Linked DNA regions of Homo sapiens: all the other regions are linked to region 2. The links come from fine-mapping of genetic effects on gene expression. A gene starts in region 2. Each other region holds a variant in brackets. All regions are shown on one strand. Distances are from middle to middle. Region 1 holds the start of PNMA5 (PNMA family member 5). Region 2 holds the start of ZNF185 (zinc finger protein 185 with LIM domain). Region 3 overlaps NSDHL (NAD(P) dependent 3-beta-hydroxysteroid dehydrogenase NSDHL).

Evidence for each region. PIP is the estimated chance that this variant, and not a neighbour inherited with it, causes the effect. A credible set is the group of variants that fine-mapping cannot tell apart.
Region 1: its variant is the best candidate, but not a certain one, in a credible set for the expression of ZNF185 in esophagus muscle (GTEx, PIP 0.77).
Region 3: its variant is the best candidate, but not a certain one, in a credible set for the expression of ZNF185 in thyroid (GTEx, PIP 0.54).

Annotation. Positions count from the first base shown.
Region 1 is chrX:152,992,091-152,994,590 of GRCh38, reverse strand. It overlaps PNMA5 (PNMA family member 5), which reads left to right and starts at 475. Exons shown (of 4, transcript NM_001184924.2): 1 at 475-558; 2 at 1,805-1,934. The variant G/A (reference allele first, on the strand shown) is at 1,223.
Region 2 is chrX:152,896,678-152,899,518 of GRCh38, reverse strand. ZNF185 (zinc finger protein 185 with LIM domain) reads right to left here and starts at 1,452. Exons shown (of 25, transcript NM_001395254.1): 1 at 1,281-1,452. RefSeq lists an enhancer at 1,700-2,200.
Region 3 is chrX:152,848,934-152,851,774 of GRCh38, reverse strand. It overlaps NSDHL (NAD(P) dependent 3-beta-hydroxysteroid dehydrogenase NSDHL), which reads right to left. Exons shown (of 8, transcript NM_015922.3): 3 at 1,352-1,510. Among named protein-coding and RNA genes, the nearest start is that of NSDHL, 19 kb to the right of the region's middle. The variant A/C (reference allele first, on the strand shown) is at 1,487.

The DNA of each region.
Region 1 (2,500 bases), 95 kb before region 2:
AAATCAGGAGAATAATGGGAGAATGGAATATTTTCAGTCATCTGGCTCTCAGTGAGCAGCGAAAAAAAACTAATGCCCTTGTGAAATGCAGGCAGTAGCTGTATTTTTTGCCCTCCTCCCCTAGAACAGTCCAATAAAAAATAAACGAGGGCTATGACTCGTTTATAAGGGCGCTCACGTGGCCTATACGTTGCACTGGGTGATTTGCACCCGGCCCTTCACCCATGGGCTTGGGACGCCACAGCTCCCCTCCAATGAGGAAGAGCCACAGTGGCTGCTGGGCCAAATGGCACGTGGCGAGCCTGGCTGCCACCGTCGTCGGCACGGGGGTGGGTGGGGTGAGGAACCACCTTGCAGGAAGTAGGAGGGTTTATGTCACCAGTGCGCAACCGTGAGCGGGCCGTGTGCAGTTCCGCTCATGGGGTAGGGGGGCGGTCGTCACCAGACAACCTCTTCCCGCCACAGCCTCGTGGCGCAGTCAGCACGGAGGCGGCAGCCGCCATAGACGTGTGGTGGTCGCGCTGCGCGGGAACTCCGGCTTGGAGGCACCTCCGGCAGGTACGGAGCTGGACCCCGGGCTCGGACAGCAACCCAGATTACGGGGGAACCCCCCAGTAACTCTTGCTATTTTCCACGGGGTCTAGGGGCTGGTGGCCATAGGTTTCCCTGGAGGCGGGATCCCACTAGATCACACCCAGCACGCCAAGGAATCCCTGCCATTTCCAGGCAGAACTTCAGGGAGACCTGGCCGGGCGCGGTGGCTCACACCTGTAATCCCAGCACTTTGGGAGGCCGAGGCGGGTGGATCACCTGAGGTCAGGAGTTGGAGACCAGCCTGGCCAACATGGGGAAACCCCGTTTCTACTAAAAATACAAAAAGTAGCCGGGCGTGGTGGTGTACGCCTGTAATCCCAGCTACTCAGGAGGCTGAGGCCGGAGAATCACTTGAACCCAGGGGGCGGAGGTTGCAGTGAGCCGAGATACGCTACTGCACTCCAGCCTGGGTGACAAAGCCAGACTCCGTTTCAGAGAAAAACAAACAAACTTCAGGGAGACCTATTCCACCCTTGACCTGCCCGGAGACACTGCAGTCAGGATAGTAGCTCTTGGCCCTTGCCCTTGAGGGAAAGTGGCTTCGAACCTTCCCCTCCTAGATTCTGCCTGCTTCCACTGATGTCGGTGGTGTGGGTGTATGTAGATAACCGGGTGGGGATTGGGGGGA[G/A]CAGGGGAATGGAGGTAGGGGATTTGGGGATATCAGTTAGACTTGCCTCGGGGTAGGAGTTGGACTTGGTGAGGGGGCAGGGCTTGGGGTAGGAGTTGGACTGTGGGTGGGGGCAGGGCTTGAGGCACGAGTTAGACTTGGGTGGTGGAAGGGGTTAGACTTGGTGGGGGGCTAAGCTTGGGGTAGAGGTGCAACTTAGTTATAGGCAGAGTTTGGCAGCAGGGGTGCAGGTTTTGAGGTGGGGCTTAGGAAGGGTTGCAACATGGCTGTAGGGGCGGAGCTTGGGAGGGAATGGAGTTTGCAGTGGGGGTAGGGCAGCAACCTTACCTTAGGATCCCTTCTGCCCTACCAGCAGCCCCCCTGCCCCCACCCCCTACCTCCCTCCTCACCTCCCACCCCTCTCACCATTCGTCCCCCGACTCCTCCCCCCGCTCCGCTCCCTCTGTCAGTTGAGCAGTTTCTTCTATCCCTGCACCAGGGTCCTAGTGAACACCTATGCAGAGTCTGAATTGGCATGGCCTGGGCAGGGACATGTGTGTGGGACAGAATCACAGCAAAATACCTCTGCTTTGCCTTGGACAGATCCAGTGAAGCAGGACCCATCACGCCTGAGTCAGGAACTGCCTAACTGGATAGAGTTGAAAAGCAGAGCGAGTCTGAAGTGGCTGTGTTATTGCAGCATCCGCGCTGCCAGCAGGGCCAACCCAGCAAGGTGAGCAGCTGTGAGTTGGGCCCTGTTGGGAGGGGCTCTGGAACCCTGGCAAAGAGTGGGGAGAGGGGACTGCCTGCCAGGGTTCACAGACTCTGCAGGGTAGGGCCATCTCTAGGGCAAGAGTTGTTGGTTTCCTGCAGTCTGGCAGTGGGGACCTTATCTGGGTCCCTTTTCTGCCTGATTTCAGCTTCCACACAATTGAAACCATGAGCTCCTGTCCTTTCAGCACTCACTCCTCATGCCCATCTCGCCTTCCCTCTCCCACCCTCCTTTTTGCTAGTACGCTTTATTGGTTGGAGGCCAATGACATCACCTGTTGCTTTTCAAGGACCTTGGCCTTACCACATGACACTCCCCTGCAATAGCAACCCATGGTCCATGGTATTCTCTGTATCCATGGCAACACTGCAGCTTGTCACACAATCTCCACACCCACCACTCTCATTGCATTGCGCAGAGCTCAGCCATCTTTCTCATCCGTCAGGCATTCCTGAGAAAGAGGGCCACTCTACCTCTCTTGCTGCCAGCCTTCACTCCAGCAAGGAGGGTGCTGGGTGACCTGAGCC
Region 2 (2,841 bases):
TTGCTGGAAGGAGGGGCAGGTGAGAGGGATCTGTTCCTTCCCATCCTGAAGTGGCCTGGGAGCGATGAGGGGAACAGCGGAGGCACCAAGGCCTGCCAGAAGGCTGGCCCCTCATCTGTGCATCTGTGTCTTGGCCACTTGCTGGCCTCTGAGCTGCCCCTTGTTTTTCAGATGAGGAGCGGAGGCCCTGGGAAGGCAGGACCTCTGCAGCTCTGTTCAGGCCTATCAACCTGTGCACCCCTGCCTCCCGCCCCCAGCCAGGTACGACAGCCAGAAGTCTGAAGGGCCATGAGACCAAGGCAGGACTTAGTCCAGGTACTGAAGCCTCAAGCACTGCTGGATGGGGTGTGAGAGGCCCTCTCTCGGGGCTCACAGCTTTGGGGCCTCCCATGATGCCAAGGCTTCGTGCCGACGGCTCAGCAAGAACACAACTCCTACCATGCCTCAGATGTCCCAAAGCCGGGACACACCCACCACCTACTTTATCTGAGTCCCCAGCAGCCCTGGGTGGGAGGCAGCTTGACGTGTCACCCCCTTAAACCGACAGAGTACCCAGGTGTCCCCAGCTCAGAAGTGGCAGATCAGGCAGGAGCACCTGAGCTTTCGGCCTTTTTGTAAGGCAAGGTATCCCTCTGCCTTTCCAAAGAGGACAGACTCTTGGCTCCCTCTGCCCCCATCAAAACAATCCAGCCACAGAGCTGGTGCAGTGCCGATCCTGTCGATAACACCCAGTGACACCTGATTCGGCGCCTTCTGTCTGAGTGTGAGCAGCCACCATCCTCATGGCCCTCCCCAAGATTGCCCTGTACCCAGCACATGCACCTCACAGGCCCCAGGGCGATTGAGGGGATCCTCTGGGTGAGCCAGCCTCTGGGTCTCAGTTTCCTCATCTATAAAATGGGCACAGGGGGACGGAGGGATATGAGATTCCCTGATTCTTAAAGGCCTGCAGTCAACTCTCAGAGCATCCTGGCCCCTCGCCGTTTACTAACAATTAAACCGTGTCTTTCCTAAAGGGCAAGACAGAGGGATCAGGCTGGCAAGGGGGACACTTGCCTCTGTAGGGGACGCTGGCCTCCTCTGCCTGTCAGTCTTTTCACTCACAGCGAAAACCAGAAATCCACTGACTCCCGGGGGGAACCCGAAGAGAGATGCTTGGAGCTGGTAAGGGTTATGGATGGGGAAACTGAGGCCCTGACTTGTCCCCAGCTGGGCACGGACTGGGTGCCCCCCACTGCCTCCAAGCAGGGCCGCATCCAATGGCGACTCGACAGCCCTACCTGGCACCGGTGCCCGGCTCGTGGGGCGGGTGGAGGGTCGGGCAGTCGCAGGGCGCGGGCTCCCTCGGGTGGACGGCGCCCGGCCGGGCCGGGCCGGGCCGGGGAGGCAGGCGCGGGGCGCGGGGCGCGGTGCACAGCGGGGAGCGCGCAGGGAGGCGAGGAGGCGCGGACTGGGCTCCGCCCGCAGGAGAACAAACAGGTTTTCTCCGGCCGCCCGGAGCCTCGCCCCTCGCCCCTCCCCTCGGCCGGCCCCTTCCTCTGCCCCTCCTGGGGTAGGTAGAGGCGCCTGGCACATTCCGCACATTCTCCCGCCAGCGTCCTCCGCCCGCCCGCCCCTTCTCGGCCCCGCCCCGCGGGGCTGCTGGAGAAATCAAGTCTGGGGCTCCCCTTGTCGAGCACGGGGCGAGCTCCAGAAGGCTCTGCCGTGATGGAAAACTTCCAGGCAAATTCCTCCGGGCCCGTGGCCCCCAGGCCGGGAAGCCTCCGCCACGTGAAGGGCCCCCGCTCCTAGTTGCGCGATCTGGCCCCGGCACAGGGCCAACGACTTCCACAGATGCTGTCGGGTTAATTCAGTCGAGAACTACCGTTCCTAGATCCATTTTACAGATGGAGATCCCAGACAGGGGCGGGGAGGGGGGCGGGGGGCTGGCGGCTGAGATCATCCAGGAAGTCCTGCAGGCAGGAAAGGAGGAGAAGAGTGAGGGAGCCGCTCATCGTGGAAGGCCATCCTGGGACGGACCCGGGGCTCACAAGGCACAGCAAACGGGGCTATCTCCCAGGCTGGGCGACGAGATACAGCCAGACTCCCAGAGCCAATGCGGTTTGATGTACCTGTGTCACGCGTTGGTGCTCACCGAGTGCTTTATTGTGTGCAAGGCCCTGGGCTGGGGCTAAGGATGGAGAGAGCATGGAGGAAAGACCCCTCACCCCACGGCCTCCCAAACAGGGAGACAATTAAGCCAGCCCAAGAAATGGCATGGACTTGGCCAGGAGTTGGCCTACCAGGGTGGTAGGCTCAAAAGAATGGACCAGCTGCTTCTCCTTCATCAAGGCCTGCCAATGTGGTGTTTCCATGGCCCTCCAGTCCACCCACTTCTCCCTGTGCCTGCTGCCACCACCCTAGTCCAGACCTGGCCCCGAAGACCAGCCTCCTTGCTGGTGTCCCCCTGCCTCTGGTCTTGCCTTCCTTTCCCTCAGTCTCTACACGGAGGTCAGGTTAAAAGTTCACGTGTGTCAATATGATCAGGTGCTCTCCTGCTTGCAACTCCTCCATGGCTTCCCATTGCTCTCAGGGTAAAAGCCAGACTCCTTGAGACGACCTATCCCTGCAGGTCCAGCCACTCTTCCCTTTGTTCAATACATTACAGCCACACTGGCCTTTTTCCATTGCCTTCTGAATACATCACATGGCGCTCACCTTGGGGTGTTTGCTCCTGCTCCTCGGACTCCCTAAAATGCTCTTCATCCCCGTCGGGCTAGTGAGCTCTTAGTCATTCTTCAAGCCTCCACCCAGTGTCCGGAAAGCCTCCCCTGCCTGCCACCCAGTCGAGCTGATCACTTC
Region 3 (2,841 bases), 48 kb after region 2:
CACTGGGAAGGGGAGCAGGCGGCTGTGGGTGGCCACCACAAGGAGGGAACGGTGTCGGGGTTTGTACAGTCTGAGGGTATCCTCTTCAAAGCTGGAGAGGCTTAGAGCAGCATGAGGGAGAACGGTTCGGAGGCAGCAATGATGAGCATGAAAGATGTCTACCCCATCTCCAGGCCTGGAGGTGTGGGCAGCACGGGAGAGAAAACAACCGTAACTTTGCAGCGGAAGCAATGGCCTTAATATTTCATCAACAAACCATATAGCGAATGACACCAAAGCCAAGAATAAGGGCCCAGTGACAGGCTGAGGGAAGCCATCCATAATAAGTACAACGGGCACAGGATTGGCATCCCAACTAGATCAACAAGGAAGCAAAGGTAACCCCAAAGACAAAGGGGCAAAGGACACAGACAAACATTTCACACAGGAGGAAGCCTGAAAGCCGATCACCCAGTGGCAGAGTGGCTGGTTACTTGGTCAGGGAGGACATGTGACTCTGAACATCAGTGAAGCACCACTTCATACTTCTCAGAATGGCAACACCAAAAAGTCTAGTTATGCCCAGTGTTGGCAAAGATGTGAAGCAATGGGGCTTGTGCCACATTGTGGATATGGAGGTAAAATTGACATAGCAGCTTTGCTGAGCCATTTGGCACCATCTAATAAAATTCAAGATATTCATACCTGTACAACATGGATGAAGCTTGAAAACATCATGCTAAGTGAAAAAAGTCAGGCACAGAGGTACAAATATTACATGATTCCATTTATATGAAATGTCCAGAAGAGGCCAATCCATAGATGGGAAGTAGATGAGTGGCGGCCAGGGGCTGGGAGGGGAAGAGAGGGGATGGCTACAAGATTTCATTTTGGGGTAATACAAATATTCTGGAGTTAGATCATGGGAGACAGTTGCACAGCTTTGTGGATGTACTGAAAATCACTGAATTGCACACTTTAAAAATGTGAAATTTGTGGTACATGAATTATATCTCAATTAAAAAATCAAGACCCTGTGGCCCAGCACACACTTGTTTTGCAGTTGGAACAATACAGCCCATGGACGGCTTTTGAAGTCAAGTTTCACTGGCATACAGCCACAGCCATTTGTTCATTTAAGTGCTGACCATGGCTGCTTTTGTGCTACCAGGACACAGCTGAGTATCTGTGACAGAGATGATGGTTATTCATTCTAAGCAGTAAGAATGTGGTGTTCTTTCCTATAACTTTGAAAATTTTCACAATGAAACAATTGTTTTTCAAACAAATTGGCTGGCTTCTGAGCAAGGGAAGTATCGTGGTTTCCCTTCGTGGGCTCGTGGGAAATCAGCAAGGCTGCATGGTCCATTACCTGTCGGCTGCAGAGGTCACCCAGAAAGAACCGCACCTGGGGATTATCAAACCCTTGCTGGATATCAAATACATTGACAGCATATCCTCTTGCCAGCAACTGCTCCACCATGTGCTGCCCCAGGAATCCAGAGCC[A/C]CCGATCACTGTGCATCTCTTGGCCTGTGGAAAGAGAGGAACGGTGGGGAAGACCAGGGTAGTGAGGACTGGAAGCTACAGAGTCCAGACTTACATATCATGAGCCACTGCAATGGCAGATATACTTGTTTGTTTGGAACTCTTCTTGAGCCAAGTTGGAAGCTTTATATCATCCTGGTGTTCCATCACTAGTGCAACCCTAACCTTCTCTCCTGGGATCAGTAAGGAGGGAAGAGAGATAGCGAATGACACTGAGATTGACTTTGGTTGGGTTTGATGACAAGATCCATGCTTTGTATTCAGTGAAAGGAAATCAAACCACCTATGACCAAAACTGGACAATCTAAAAAATACCCCAAAAAACAGTGATACCTTCTTGTTCCCGATAGCTGATCCCTGGGCGCTTCTCTAAGGACAAAACAAAACAAAACAAAACGGCAGCCATTTGGTAGCTGATAGCTTGCACTGAAAACAACAGAAAGAAGAAAGCAGTCTCCATACTTGCAGGACAAAGTCAGTCCCTTTCCCTCTCTGGCCACAACAGGGCTGGGCTGTGTGGCTCTGGGCTCATCGCCCAACCCCTTCTTGCCTCAGCCTAGAAATCTAAGACCGCCTTGATGGGATCTCCTGGTGGGGCTGCAGTGAGGATGGATGAGCCCAGGGCTCTGCTTTCCCTCCTCCGAACTACAAGGAAGTTGAAGAAATGGGGAGAGCCATGGTGTTTATGTCTCAGCCTCCACAACACACACGATTCCTTGGGTAATTCCAACTCTGGTGACTGGGCATAATGAAAGGACACAGTAGCACATGCAGGCACTTAAATACCCTCATTTCAGGATGTTGATGCCAAACTGTGGCTGCTGCACACCAGACAAGCTGGCTATGGGTGTCTGTGAGGAGGACCTGTGATATCCCTCCTCCCTAGGGTCTTTCTAAAACTGTATCTGGGCCTCCTTAAGATGACAACCTCCAATTTCCTTAGCTCATATACAGTAAATCCAACTTGGGTTTGTGGAAATGAAAGATCTTAAAGAAATTATGTTCTAGATTTAAAAAACAAACAAATCTCCCTACTTATTCCTTAAACATCAACACAATTGAGCTATGCAAGAGACTCAAGGGATGCCAGGGCCAGACATCCTCTCTAGATCCACCTCCCTCCCAGTTGGGGTGTCCCATCTGAAACAGCACTCATACTGGATTCCACCAGGCCCAGCTGGAGCTGGCACTGTACTTTACCTTCATCTGTCCATGTGCAATCTACTAACAAAATCAGCCTCACCATTCTTCTACCACCCAAAACTAACTTCCCAACCTGTTCTTTTCTAGGCTTTATTCTGATTATTCCTAAACAC